2 linked regions of the Homo sapiens genome follow. The protein of the gene in region 2 interacts with the protein of the main gene of each other region in a biochemical or structural test. Each region holds a gene or a part of one and is shown on either strand. Other genes may lie near its edges.

The links. The genes of interacting proteins can lie anywhere in the genome.
Region 1: of the proteins of FAM20C (region 2) and PCSK9, one has a biochemical effect on the other in vitro, tested with the Homo sapiens proteins (one study listed by IntAct).

What each region holds. Positions count from the first base shown.
Region 1 is NC_000001.11:55,034,917-55,042,547, reverse strand, and holds the start of PCSK9 (proprotein convertase subtilisin/kexin type 9 isoform 1 preproprotein), read right to left. Parts: upstream 3,001-7,631; 5' UTR 2,711-3,000; coding exon 2,504-2,710; exon of another isoform or gene 2,145-2,503; intron 582-2,144; coding exon of another isoform or gene 459-581; intron 1-458.
Region 2 is NC_000007.14:251,500-258,580, reverse strand, and holds part of FAM20C (extracellular serine/threonine protein kinase FAM20C precursor), read right to left. Parts: intron 6,450-7,081; exon of another isoform or gene 5,938-6,449; intron 2,733-5,937; coding exon 2,552-2,732; intron 1,928-2,551; coding exon 1,818-1,927; intron 1,577-1,817; coding exon 1,495-1,576; intron 1-1,494. UniProt on the Homo sapiens protein: Golgi serine/threonine protein kinase that phosphorylates secretory pathway proteins within Ser-x-Glu/pSer motifs and plays a key role in biomineralization of bones and teeth.

The sequences.
Region 1 (7,631 bases), on a different chromosome or scaffold from region 2:
GTCCACCCCCTTTACCCAAAGCCTTAGGGCCAAAACGGTTTTGAACCTCAGAACTTGTTTGGATTTTAGAAAGGCAGTAATGGGCAATCAGAGTCTGCTTGGAAGAATCTGGAGCTGCATACTGTAATCTATGCAGCAAAATATATGAATATGCATATTCACACAACTAAATTAAAAATAATCTCATGTCAGTTCACGTCAGGTGCTACCATCAAATAAATCACAAAAAAAACTTTTGGTTTTCGTAACATTTTACATTTCAGACGGTGGATAAAGAACTGTGGAGGCCAGGCGTGGTGGCTCACACCTGTAATTCGAGCACTTTGGGAGGCTGAGGCGGGAGGATCACCTCCTCGGATCCACTGAGGAGGTCAGGAGTTTGCGACTAGCCTGGCCAACGTGGTGAAACCCCTTCTCTACTAAAAATACAAAAATTAGCCGGGCGTGGTGGCAGGTACCTGTAATCCCAGCTTCTTGGGAGGCTGAGGCAGGAGAACCACTTGAACCCGGGAGACAGATGTTGCAGTGAGCTGAGACTGCACCATTGCACTCCAGCCTGGGCAACAAGAGCGAAACTCCATCTCAAAAAAAAAAGAAAAAGAACTGTGGACATGTGCTCCTTATCTTCCACCTCTGGTTTTCCCAGCTCTGTATCTTTGTTCATGGTACCTCCTAATCCTAGAATAAAATTCTCATGACACCATCATCGCTGAACTCCTACTAATGCTTCAAAGACCCATCTGAAAATGCCTTCCGCTAAATAAAAATTGAATGAATTGGGAGAGTACTCTGTGCAGTGGAGTGTCAGTTCTGGAAACCCAGTTCTAATGCACCTGGGGTGACCTCCTCTCTCTGGGCCTCAGTTTCTCATGACTAAAAGAAAAGGATTGGTCTAAAAATTATTTTCTGCTTGCCAAAAAATATTTTCATTCTAAATTCGATTCCCACAAAATAACCATTGAATGAATGAATAAATGAACTTGAGGAGGCTCCTGTTCCAAACTTCCACCAGAGAAGAAACATCCTCAAGGGCTTGGTTCAGGTGGTCATACAGCCTCTGCTTACTCACCTCTCAGGATGGGGTACTCACTATTTCCAGAACAGTTGTTTTGGAGCAGTGGTAACTTGAAATGCCCTTTCTTATCCTGGCCACAACCCCACAACATCCCTCGAGAAAGTCAAAGGCTCAGGGAACAAGGAAGAGGGCTATACTGAGCTGAGTAAGGACTTGCCATCCTGCCACCCAGCACACTCAGACAGAAGCGTGGGCAGGCAGCTGTGAGTGGCAGAATTTTCCCCTCTGCCCCAGGAGCTGTGGTTTGGAGCAAAGACAATGTCACCAACAGGTCACACTGCAGACAGGGACAAAACTGCAAGTGATCCCCCCGGGGCTTGCATTGTAAGTTCACTCATGGTCAACAGAACTTTCCCTTCATCTCCCCATCTGCTGCCACTGAGCCGTAGGGACGATTGTCACCTCCCTTTTAAAGATTAGGCAATGGAGGCTCAAGGATAAGTGACTTGTCAAGCACCACAGCTAGTGAGAGGAAGCCAAGATTCAACCCCACATCTGACTCCAAGCTGGGGGACACAGAACCTCAGCCAAGTCCTGGGCTGGTAATACTTAGAAAAAGCTAGTGGTCTCGCCCCGGGAAGAAGCTTCCCACAGCCTGAGGGCCAGAAGCTGGCAGAGTTGTTGAGCAAACTCGCCCCGCACACGGTCGGCAGACAGCCAGGTGGGCTGAGGCGCCGGGCTCAGCTCCGGGGTCCCAGTACCAGGCGCACCACCTCCGGCTCCAGAGCACCAAGGGCCCTTCCCTGCCTGAGTCCTAAAGGACGCCAATGGGCCTCGAGAATACCTCCGCCCCTTCTCCCCTGCCCCTTCAGCTGGTTCTTTTCTTCGGCTGAAACAGATGGAATACTAGAGCATGAGTTCTGTGTCATAAAGAAATTGCCTCGTGCTCCCAGCATCTGCCGTCCTTCCCACCCCGCCCCTGTCTCGGGTAGGGCCTTCTCTCCAGGCCCTCCACCCTCCGCTGCCCATGTTTTCCAAACCAAATCGGAACCCACTATAATGGCAAGCCCGCTTTCTCTGTGCCTGGTGCAGTTCCCAGTACGTTCCAGGCATTCACTCCTTCACCCACCTGTGCCGCGGCGAGGCAGAAACTGGGAAATCTGGGCAGGATATCCTGGCAGTGCTCTGCTCGCCCTTCCTCGGCCTCCGGGTCTCCCAACCCCGCGAACCTTCCCACTGAATAGCGCAGCCGCACGCCCCAGCAAGTCCCCAAAGAGCCGGCCGTCCCCGCTCTCCACCGTGCTCCCCACTACCCGTCCTCCCCCGCCGCCTTGCCTGCAGTCCCCAAGATCGTGCCAAGCGAAGAGCCCTCGGCGACCTGCACTCCACTTCCTCTCTTACATGGGGGGAAACTGAGGCCCGAGAGGAAACAGCACCGCACCGTCCCGGCTGCGGGTTCGCCCCGGCCTCCCATCCCTACACCCGCACCTTGGCGCAGCGGTGGAAGGTGGCTGTGGTTCCGTGCTCGGGTGCTTCGGCCAGGCCGTCCTCCTCGGAACGCAAGGCTAGCACCAGCTCCTCGTAGTCGCCGTCCTCGTCCTCCTGCGCACGGGCGCCCGCGGGACCCAGGAGCAGCAGCAGCAGCAGCAGCAGTGGCAGCGGCCACCAGGACCGCCTGGAGCTGACGGTGCCCATGAGGGCCAGGGGAGAGGTTGCTGTCCTGGCGAGGAGACCTAGAGGCCGTGCGCGGTCCACGCCGGCGGCGCCTTGAGCCTTGCGGTGGGGAGGACTGTGCAGGAGCTGAAGTTCAGGAGCAGGGCGCGTGAAGGGGCGCGCGGAATCCTGGCTGGGAGCTGGGAGCCGCTGCTGCAACGACGCGTCCCGGCCCGCCCGAGCCAGTCTCACTGCCTGGCTCACTCCTCCAGGCTCAGACCCTGAACTGAACGGCGGCGCCCGCCTGCAACCATGAGCGCCTCGACGTCGCTGCGGAAACCTTCTAGGGTGTGGGTGCTTGACGCCTGGGGCGCGCAGATCACGCCACCAGAGCCCCATCGGACGATCCTATCTGATTAAACATTAACGGAACCCCCGGACTGGAGGATCAGGTTTCGGCCTCGCCCTCCCCAAACAGCGTCAGATTACGCGCAGAGGGAAGAAAAAACTCCCAAATCCTAACTGGGCTGGAAGGCAGGCCGGCGCCCTAGGGGCTCCTCCTCTCCCGCCTCTCACCCTGCGTGGGATGCCAGACTCCAAGTTCTGCCGGGCCCACCTTTTCAGTGTTTCCTGGGTCCACCTTGTCTCCTGCTGACCAGTGAGACTTCTGAATCAATCCTACTGTGGACTCCTCGCTGCCCACCGAATTCTTTCCACTGGCCTTAACCTGGCAGCCTTCTAAACTTAGCCTGGACCCCCTCCGGCCTCTGCCCTTTATGCACCCTGCACACTGACCTTACCAACTAGCTGCTCCTTGAAGAGATTGCTTGCTTTTGATGTCCAGCCTACATGCATTTCAAGGGATTTATACTACAAAGATTCAGGTTTTAAGTTTGCAAAGACGTCATATAGGTACATTCAGAATTCTATGGTAGGCACAAGCTCAGCTTTCCAGAAGATTCAATTTGCAAAGATTCCTTTTACACACCATGTTCAAGAAATCAACTGGACAAGCATCCAGTAAACACCTATTGTGTACCAGGCAGGAGGATGAAAAGGGGAAAGAGAGCTCCTGGCCTCAGATTGTACATGTGGCATGACATGAGGCTTGCTCTTTCTGGAAGGGCTGTCGATACTGGGAAGAAACAAAGGCGAATTTATGATCCTCCCTTGCAGATGCACAGCAGATTCCGAGTGAAATGGCCTGCTCTGAATCTAGGTGCTGGAGTCCAAAGTTGATGCTCTTTCCACTTTGTTTGCAAAGACCTCACTCCAGAGAGCCAGTGCACAAAGACAGTGCAACCAGTGGGTTGACAGTGACTCCATGAGGTAAGGTCAGAGTTATCCCCATCGAGCCCGCCATCGCAGCACAGAGTAGGAGCTCATGGTTTGCTGACAGAGGTGGCAGAGGTGGTTCTCCTTCCTGTTGCCTGTAATTGGAATTGTATTTGCAATGTGCTTTTGGCAGCTTCCTCATCAAAGGCCTCCCCTGGAGCAAGAATAGATGGGAGCTAACTTTCCCTGCTGCTCCCCTTTGGGACCTTGGCCTCTCACCTACCGGGGTCGTTACCGTGCACCCAGAGAATGATGAAGCCTGTGCACAGAGGGACATGGATGTCCCCAGGCCCAGGAAGGGGGCTGCTGTCCAGCATGCAGTGGGTGTGTTCTGAGGGAGGTGGGGGAGGAAGGAAGCACCCTGGGCTCTGCGACAGATGGAACCAGAGGGGCAGTCACTTCTCATCCCATATCCTCCACTGCACTCTTATGAGGGGCAGCCCCAGCTGGGCCTCCTGCCACTTGGCAGGGCTTTCATCCCTCACCAATTACCCCTCCCATAAGTTGCCCAAAGGAATTGTGTCACCTTCTCCCTCTTCTCAAATGGGTTCCCCCACACCCTGGCCAGCAAATAAGCAGCCAGCTCCCCTGAGAGGTACCAGCAATCAGGGTAAGTCAGAAGCCTCTTCTGGGGCCTCCCCTCCACCACAAGTGCTTTCTGGGTCAACACCCATCCTTTTCCCCTCCTGCCTTCCTCCTTCAGGGCAGAGGGGACCATCCTCTTATACTCAGCTGACACTCCCCTGCCCCAATCTGGCCTCCGCAGGGATCACCTACCTCCACTATCTCCTCTCCTCCTCTTATCCCTAAATGCCTCTTCCTGAGTTATTCTTTCCCTTCACCCCACAAGCATCCTCAAGGCTTCCTCCCTCTAAAAATGCCACTTTTACTGTCCCTCAAAATGCTTTTCTAGCCATTGCCTTCCCCTCATAGACTGAATGAGTAGATAGAACTCACTTTTATGCTCCCTGGCTACCTTCTCCAACCTCAGAAACTTGGAGTCTGCAGCCACCATTGCTGTGAGTGTACATTTCAACATTTTGAACGGGCATACTCTTTTTTGCAAGGGAGGGGGCATCTTTTTGTGTGAATGTTCAATTTTTTTAAATTTACATGAAAATGTTTTTTTTAAAACGTGAATAGTTTGAAAGGATATACAGTGAAAAGTTCATCTTCCTCCCACTCCTGAACCACCACCTTCTGAGGGAAAACCACTGTTACCCACGGTAGTGGGTTGAATCGTGTCCCCCAAAAAGATAAGTCTAAGACTAACCCCTGGTACTTTTGAATGTGACCTTATTTGGAAATGAGATCTTTGCAGATGTAATTGACCTAAGGATCTCATGAGGAGATTATCCTGGGTTTAGGATGGTCCCTAAATCCAATGACTGATATCAGAAGAGAAAGGGGAGAGATACTTGAGACACAGAAACACCTATGTAACAATGGAGGCGCCGATTAGAGCTGTGCCGACATAAGCCAAGGAATGCCAGGAGCCCCCAAAGGAGCTGGAAGAAGCAAGGAATGTTCCTCCCCTAGAGCTTTGGGAGAGGGCACCACCCTGCAACCCTTCATTCCATACTTCTGGCTTCCATAACTGCAAGAGAATACGTTTTTGTTATTTGAAGCCAGCAAATTTGTAGAAACTTGTTATAACAGCCCCAGGAAAGTAATATACCTATTTATTGGGTATCTTTTCGGAGATAGTCTACTTTTATAAAACTACTTGGATGGGCTCTTTAACCCACTTTTTAAAATTGTAAAAATAGTTTATGATTTACTTTTAACTTTTTATTTATATTGGTGGGGTGGAGAGGGACAACTTAATCTGACGTCTTAACCTAGCCCTAATCTCGGAATAAAAACCACACTGGTACACATACATCTACTGCCTTATTTTTCTGGTTGCAGATTATTTCATTCTATGTATGTTTCACAATGTCTTTAGCCAATTTCCTATTGGTTGGTGTTTCCGTTGGTTGTTTCTGTCTTTTGCTATTGCAATCCAAGTTGCCATGTCTGTCCTTATCCATAGCTGTTTGCACATGTGAGAGTATCTGTTTCATAAATTCCTGGAAGTGGAATTTCGAGATAAAGGGCACATGAATGCTCTATATTGATGATGTCTTCCCACGAGCAGTGCTGGAGGAATCCATCAGAATAGGCTAGGTTCTGCTTCCAGCACATGCACGCCCCAAATCTCAGGGGCTTGAAATGTCAAAGGTTTATTTCTGTCTCACCTCACATGTCCATCAAGGACTTTGCTTCACTACTTCATTACCCTCACCCCAGAACCAGACTGATAAAGCAACCATCATTCAGAACATTGCTGAACACTGAGGCTGACGGAAAGCAAAGAGGTGACTCCATGCAGCTTCCACACAAAAGTGACCCACAACACTTCCGTTCACATTTCCTTCTCCTAAGCGAGACACATGACCACACCTAAGGTCAAATGTAGGAAACTGCAATCACACCAAGTGCCCAGAAGGAGGAGAAAGGGTATATTTGTGAATACCACTGGCAACTACCGCTCATGGTCACACCCAGGCCAACACAGAGTTGCCAAATATTTTGACCTTTCCTTAAGTTAAACAATTATCTACATTTGTTTGTCTTTGAACTGTCTCTTCATTTTTTCATTTTGGCTGTGGAGCTTTTGTTTGATGATTTGTAATAGCTTTTTATGTATAATACCAAAATTAGCCTGCTGTCTCTTATGTATGTTGCAAATCTATTTTCCAGTTTGTTGATTGATTTTTGACTTTATTGTATTTTTTTCCATAGAAAATTTTAATTTTCATGGAGTCAAACTTATCAGCCTTTTATTTCATGACTTCTTGATTTTGTACTGTGCTTAGAAAGGCCTCCTCCTTATCAAGATCATATAAAAATTGTCCTCCTTTTTTAAATCTTTTTTTAATATCTTGGCTTCCACTGGGATTTACTTTTGTATAAGGAGTGAGGTTATTTTTCTCCAGAAGGCTAGCCTATTGTTCCAATACCGTTTATTCCGTAACTCATTTTTTCTCCCTGATTAGAAATGACGTCTTAGTAACAAAACTCCCTTGCGACTCTACATCTAATTCTGGCTGTTTTTGTACCTTTAATATCTCTAGTCAGTAGCAAACTGTGAAAATGTGCTATATACTGACCTAGCTATTTGATTTCTTAGGAATTTATCCTAAGGAAATAATTAGGCAAGTGGACAAAGAGGTACTAATGATATAGAAATCATTGTGCAAACGGAGAGCAACTAAAGTGTGTGGAGGCCCTAATATAATCTAGCAAGGACCCCAGCGATGTACACCCACCATTCAAGGATGAGGCTGGAGCTGGCCCAATGGCCCAGGATGGACAAAGGGTCCAGGACAGCAGCACGCTTTTCCGTAAGAAGCTCTGCTGTAAAATGGGTGTGCTCAGCTCTTAAAACAGCTTCTGACTCAGTAAAGACTGAACAGGGTATAGGAAGCCCAGACATGTGGTGGGGTGGGAAGTTTGCATCTGGTCCCGCTGCTGGGAGCCACAGGGAGCTGTGGCCATGGCTCCTCAGTGCCCTTCTGGCTGCGCTGCCTCCTGCCTCTTGGGGTGGTATGAGTCCTGGCTCCGACTGCAACATGTTGATTCA
Region 2 (7,081 bases):
GGAGCTGGGCCATGGGTCCACCTGCCTGTACCCGACACCCCAGGCAGTGGGTCCACCCAGCCCATCTCCAGCACCCCGGGCAGTGGGTCCATCCCACCCATCTCCAGCACCCCAGGCAGTGGGTCCATCCCACCCATCTCCAGCACCCCAGGCAGTGGGTCCACCCCACCCATCTCCAGCATCCCGGGCAGTGGGTCCACCCTGCCCATCTCCAGCACCTCAGGCAGTGGGTCCACCCTGCCCATCTCCAGCACCCCGGGCAGTGGGTCCATCCCACCCATCTCCAGCACCCCAGGCAGTGGGTCCACCCTGCCTATCTCCAGCACCTCAGGCAGTGGGTCCACCCCACCCATCTCCAGCACCCCAGTCAGTGGGTCCACCCTGCCTATCTCCAGCACCTCAGGCAGTGGGTCCACCCTGCCTATCTCCAGCACCCCAGTCAGTGGGTCCACCCCGCCTATCTCCAACACCCCGGGCAGTGGGTCCACCCAGCCCCATCTCCAGCACCCCAGGCAGTGGGTCCACACTGCCTATCTCCAGCACCCGGGCAGTGGGTCCACCCAGCCCCATCTCCAGCACCCCAGGCAGTGGGTCCACACTGCCTATCTCCAGCACCTCAGGCAGTGGGTCCACCCCGGGCATCTCCAGCACCCCAGGCAGTGTGTCCACCCAGCCCATCTCCAGCATCCTGGGCAGTGGGTCCACCCAGCCCCATCTCCAGCACCCCAGGCAGTGGGTCCACCCTGCCCATCTCCAGCACCCCGGGCAGTGGGTCCACCCAGCCCATCTCCAGCACCCCGGGCAGTGGGTCCACCCTGCCCATCTCCAGCACCCCAGGCAGTGGGTCCACCCCGCCTGTCCCCAGCCCTGTATGTGGGGTCCTGGCCTCTGGCCTGGGGAAGGGTCCTGGGCAGCCGAGTTGAGATGGCTCCAGGGAGCGTCAGCCCACAGTTTAGCTATTGAAGTGCCCAAAGTCCATCTCTCTGAGGCCTCCGAGCCTGGGAATGGACGTCCTCCTGCCCGAGTTACTCGCCTCCATGCTTTGCTTATTAGGGGTCACCCTCCCTGGTAACCAGGGTCTCACAGCGCCGCCCAAGACCCCCCGTGGCAGGCCAGCAGCGGCCGCAGAGGCCGCCTATCCCCCGCTGGCTGGCTCCAGGTACCGCGTGCAGGCAGAGGCCCATCTATTCTGCACGGTCCTGCTCTTCCTACCAGCAGCCTCTCCTGGCCTCCGTTTCCCAGGTAACACCAGCTCTGCCGGGACTTGGTCTGCAGCATTCCTGTGCCTCGGAGGTCCCACTCCCGGGGCGGCCCTCCCTCCTGGTTGGGGCCTGGGGCCGCCCTCTGCATCTGGCTCTGAGATGGGCCTTTGCGACATTCCCATCCCTCCACTGGAGGGTCTGCTCCCCCCGTCCCCAGGGTCTCAGGTGGGCTGCAGGTAGCTGGGAGGTGGCCGGCCCTTCCCTGGGTGTGCAGGGGCGAGGACAGGCTCACCCTCTTCCATTGTCTAAGTGGATGATGAACGTTTCATTCCCAAACTTCTCAAAAGTCTCGTAGTGGTGACGGTCCATGTTTCCTGCGGAGAGAGGCAGAAAGTGTCACAGCTCGTGGGGAGCCGGGCCACGTAGCTCAGAGGCCTCTGTGCTCTGCAGAGCGGCGTCTCCTCCTGCCAGCGTGACCTCTAAGCAATCTGGCCCCTTCACAGGCCACAGGACCGCAGCCGGGCCGTGCCACGGAGTGTGCCCTGCAGAGCCCTGCGTGCATCCGCTCCACGCAAGGCGAGTGACACGGGGACCCCGTGCCCCTGCGGGACGTACCCATGAGGAAGTCGAAGATCGTCATGTCCATGACGTCCAGGATGCGGTGGCTGCTGTCGTAGGGCGGTGTCTGCTTCACCTCCTCGCAGTAGTCAGGGTCCACCTCCCACCTGCGGGGAGCCAGCGTGAGACGGGGGGCCCAGGCCAGATTCTGGGGAGCCCGGCGCGTGCCATGAGGAGCAGAAGAGAAACACTGCGGCAGGGACCTTGGCGTCTGCAGATGGACCCGCCCGGGCTGCGGCGCTGAGGCTGCATTAGCGGGAGCACGGGTGTGGGAGGGGACGGAGCCGCTCTGCCCTGCCTCGGGGTGACCCCACCTGGAGCTGCCTTCACCTCTGGGCCCCGTGTTTTTTGCAGAGTCTCTGTGGGGAAACAGGACCTGGACTACACACTCACGAGGACAACGTGGGGCGGAAAGAACAGGGGCCGTTTCTCCCGCAGGAGTGAGGAGAGGGACGGGGCGAGAGCAGAGCTCAAACGCTGAGAGGCCCCGATTCGAGGGACCTGGTGGGCAGGCCGGCCCGGGTCAGGGAAGCACATGGAAATACTGGAGTAAGGACGCCCTCTGCCACCGTCTCATCAGGAAGCGGTCATCTCACACAGGCCAGCATCGCACAGCAGGCTCTGCACCCATCTCTGCCACCCCCGTGGGCGCCGACCCTCCCATGCCCGCCCAGGCCCAGCTCCCTCTGCCGTAGGGTGGCCGGACGCCAGCCCCCCGGCCCCGCACTCACTCGGCCTTCTTGCGCTTGTGGTAGGAACGCCGCCAAGGGTTCCGCCAGGTCTTCCTCTTGGCCAGGGACAGGTCGGGCAGGAAGGCCGCCAGCGAGCCCTCGATCTGGTCTGGCTTCCCGCACAGGGCGTGCTCCGTGGAGCAGTAGTAGGAACACTCGCCGTAGAAGCAGATGTTGTTGGCTGGGGAGGGACAGGCTGCGGGTTACCAGGGCCGCACAGGGCTGCGTCCTCACCTGTGGTCTCACGGCCCCCAAGGCCGGGCCGGGCTCTGCCTGGTGCTTCTCATGGGCAGGACTCACCCACAGTTCCCCATCAATCCCAGCAAACACCTCCACCCCACGGTACAGAAAAATGAACCCACAGAGCTGACGTCCCGAGGCCACACAGCTCCCCAGAGGCAGAGCCCGGCCTGAACCCTCGAAAATCAGGGGCTGGTCTATGGAAACCCTAGGGCCAACATTTAGTCTTTTAAAAAATGCATTCATATTGTCAAGAAAGTGAAGATACAATCCACAGAATGGTAGAAAACGTTTGCAAACCGCACATCTGAGGATCTAGCATTTAGAGTGTATGAAGAACTCTCATCACTCAATCACAAAAAGACAAAAAAAACTAATAAATGGGCAGAGGGCTTGAACAGCTGATTCTCCAAAGACGACCCTGATGGCCGACAAGCATGAGAAGAGACGGGCGCCATCGTGAGTCACCGGGGAGATGCAAATCAAAGCCACGGTGAGGCACCATCTCCTGTCTGCTGGGATGGCTTCCATCAAAAGAGCAGCTGCCGGCTGGGACGGGGGAACCGCCACCTCTGTGCGCTGCTGGCGGGGGGTGCACACGGCACAGCCACGGCGGAAACGGTCTGCAGCCCCCAACTGATTAAACACAGTGTTTCCACGTGACCCAGGAACTCCCCTCCCATGTAAACCCCTAAGAGAAGAGAAAACATTTCTATACAAAAACTCAGACACGAATGCTCACAGCAGCACCGCTCACCACAGCCGAAAAAGAGAGAATCCACCCAAATGTCCATCAAGAGAGGAGTGGACACGCCAGGTGAACATGGTCCATCCGTGCGATGACACGAAACGAAATGAAACAAGAAGAGGAATGAAGCCCTCACTGAACCCGAGAACCCTGTGCTCCGCGAAGGAGGCCAGACAGAGGAGGCCACACGTCGTATGACCCTCTTAATATGAAACGCCCAGAACAGGCAAATCCAGATAGACTGGGGGTGGGACGCTGCTCGTCGAGGGCTGCGGGGTGAGGAACGGTGACCGCCTGCTCATGGTACGGGGCTCCTTTTTGGGGTCAGCAGGACATTCTGGATTTAGACAGTGGTGATGGTTGCACACCATTGTGGATATACTAAAAACCACGGAACTGTACGCTTTTAAATGGTAAATTTTGTGGTACATGAATTATACCTTAATAAAGAAAGAATAATCAGAAAAATGCAAGCGCTGTCCAGGCCCGCTAGCAGTGCGGGTTCACTGCTCTGATGCTGGAGGCCCGGCCGACGGCGCTATTCCTGTATTTATTTGCTGATTAAATCTAGTTTTTCTTGCTTTATTTGTTTGTGGAGAAACTCTGGAAAGCCTGGGGCTGTAGAACTGGTGAGAACGTGGTTTTGTTGGGGCCGGAGCCCCGAACCTCACTCACAGCTCCCCCAGTCCCAGCATTCCTATGCAGCCAGGCTGAGTGATTCCAGGGGTCTCTCCTGGCTGCAGGGCAGGCTCCCCGTGGGATCAGAAGGCAGGTTCGGCAGGGCGCTTCCCAGCGGAGTGAACAGGAGGGTGGCCGGTCCCGGCTGCCCTTTCTTAGCTGAACAAGCTGAGGTTCGGAGAGGAAACGGGGTGGGTGCCAGGCCGACCTGGCCCCCACCACACCCCACGCACCCGGCAGGTCCCGGCTGGTCTGGTTCCAACGCCCCGATCACCTGCCTGCCCCCTCCTTCCCGCGCCCCCTCACCCCACTGCCAACGCTGGGTCATTATTGTAAGAACGAACGATCAAGGAAAGACCAGCTGCAATCCTGTCTCGTGCTGATACAGATTAGTCGGCAGCCCACAGTCGGACGAGGCAGCCCCCACCGGGGCAGGAGCTCCATTTCAGGAGGAAAATCTTCATCTGAGCGCTCATTGGCTGGAGGCTTAAAATTCGTCTGCTGTTAACAGCCTCCCGTCCTCGCCTAAGCCGGTTTCAGATGGTATCGTGTTAAAAGAGAAAGGCATTTCTCGGGCCCACAGCCATTTCTCTTTGCAGATCCAAATCGGGTATTAAAGGGGCCTCCCGGGCGGGGTTAGGAGGGCTTGGAGCTGTGTGACCTCAGGCAAGTGCCTCCCTGCTCTGTGCCCAGCCCCTCGCCCGGGAAGCGGGGGTCCCAGCAACGCCGGCATCACGGGCTGGGAATTACACAAAGAAGCCACGGGAGGCAGCTGTCCAGGTAACGAAGGCTGCCCTGCACTTGGAGTGGGGGCTTTCTGGGAGGAAGGAGCGTGAGTCCTTTTCCATTTTAGTAATAATAAAAGACACAAACAGCAAGGAGAAAGCCAGGGTAGCGGACAAACCCAGGAGAGATCCTGCCTCCTCCAGTCACCAGGAAATGGCATCACGGTTGGCCTCCCGGAGAGCGCAGACAGGCAAGAGTGTGGCTCCTGGCAAGGACGAAGATGGCTCCTTCACCCTGCGGCTCAAGCGTCTCCCACCATTCCTTTCGCTGACTGTGTCGGGGCTGACCCAGCAGGAGGAGCGTTTTGCAAGGCGGACGTCTGCCATCTGCCACCTTGGACAGCTGTGCCCTGGACAGCTGCGGGCCCGGCGGACACTGTTACTTAGGGCAGCGGCTCTGGGTGCCCGAACTGGGTCCATCGCTGGAAACGTGTCTCCTGCAACCTGCATTTAAGCTGGACGCAGCACTGGAGAGAGTCCTGAGGACCGCCCTGCCCAGCCCAGGCCACCGTGGCAGGAAAAAAGGCGAAGCGGATGATGGCAAAGCCCTTCTGTCCAGGCTGTGTCGGGCTGAGTGGCTTCCGGAGCTGCTGAGGACCTGGGCCTGGTCCTGGGGGCGCTCACCTTGCAGAAATGCAAAGCTGTGCACGGATGACCTGTGCACCTCTGGGACGTTTGCAACGTGCAGACGGTAACTTACGTGAGAAGTAGGGGAGTGTGTTCTGTGAGCGTTTGGGGCTTAGAAGATGTGGGCTCTGACTGCGGCCCGGCCCCTACACAGCTGTGCGGTGCTGGGGTCCTAATTGCCCTCTCTGAACCTGAGCTCCACAATCCCTACGTGGGGCAGGGGGCTGCCTGGGGCTCAGCCTCCTGCTTCTCCCTCCCAGAGCCCACCTTCCCCGAGCACTGGCCTTGGCCACCTCTCGCCCCCTCACCTTGTTCCTGGCTGATGGGATTTTCCCTTTTCTGATTGACCCCACGGGAGGGTCACTCAGGCCACGGGAGGCCGAGGGGGTGTCTGCAGTGGGCTCAGCCCTCCAATGTGCTCTGGGCTCCAGCAGGGCTTCCGAGACCACCTGGCATCCGTGGTTGGGAGGCCGAGGGGGTGTCTGCAGTGGGCTCAGCCCTCCAATGTGCTCTGGGCTCCAGCAGGGCCTCCGAGATGACCTGGCATCCTTGGTCGGAAGGCCGAGGGGGTGTCTACAGTGGGCTCAGCCCTCTGATGTGCCCTCGGCTCTGGCAGGGCCTCCGAGATGACCTGGCATCCTTGGTCGGGAGGCCGAGGGGGTGTCTACAGTGGGCTCAGCCCTCTGATGTGCCCTCGGCTCCGGCAGGGCCTCCGAGATGACCTGGCATCCTTGGTCGGGAGGCCGAGGGGGTGTCTACAGTGGGCTCAGCCCTCTGATGTGCCCTTGGCTCCGGCAGGGCCTCTGAGGTCACCTGGCATCTGTGGTTGGGAGACACATGCAAAGCAAAGTGGAGCAAACGAATCTGAACAGATTTTGTTCTCTAGGAGAGGAATCCGGGCTCCTGGGCCCCTGCTGCTTGAGAGAAAGTCAAATGCTCACAGAGGCTTCTGGAAGAAATCGGACTGACAGGGCAGCGCGGCTGGAGTGGCAGCAGTGGGGTTCCAGGGGCTGCGTTCAGGGGCGCCTGACAATGCTGGGCCTGGCTGCTCTGGGAGATTCAAGGACTCGTCTGTCCAGGCAGGGACATGGAACTGTTGGGGCCTCTGGTGGCCGAGGAAGTCTTGGATTTCAGGGGAGAAACTTGCGCTGCCCTGGAAAACGCAACTAATATCCAGAACCAGGAGTGGCCAGGGAAGCTGCTGGAGCGCTTAATAAAGTGCTGGCTCCAGGGAGACGTGAGAAGGGATTCCAGCAACGGCACCAAAGGTGGTCGATGGCCGCCTTGCAGCACAGAGCTCAGGGGCACTCCGGTGACCACCGTCCCTGGCCTGCTGAGGACCTGGGGATTCCAAGTGTCAGCCAACATGGGACATAGAGGTGACTTAATTCACCTGCTTGGACTAATAATCAACTCAGTCTTTTTTTTTTTTGAGACGGGGTCTCACTCTGT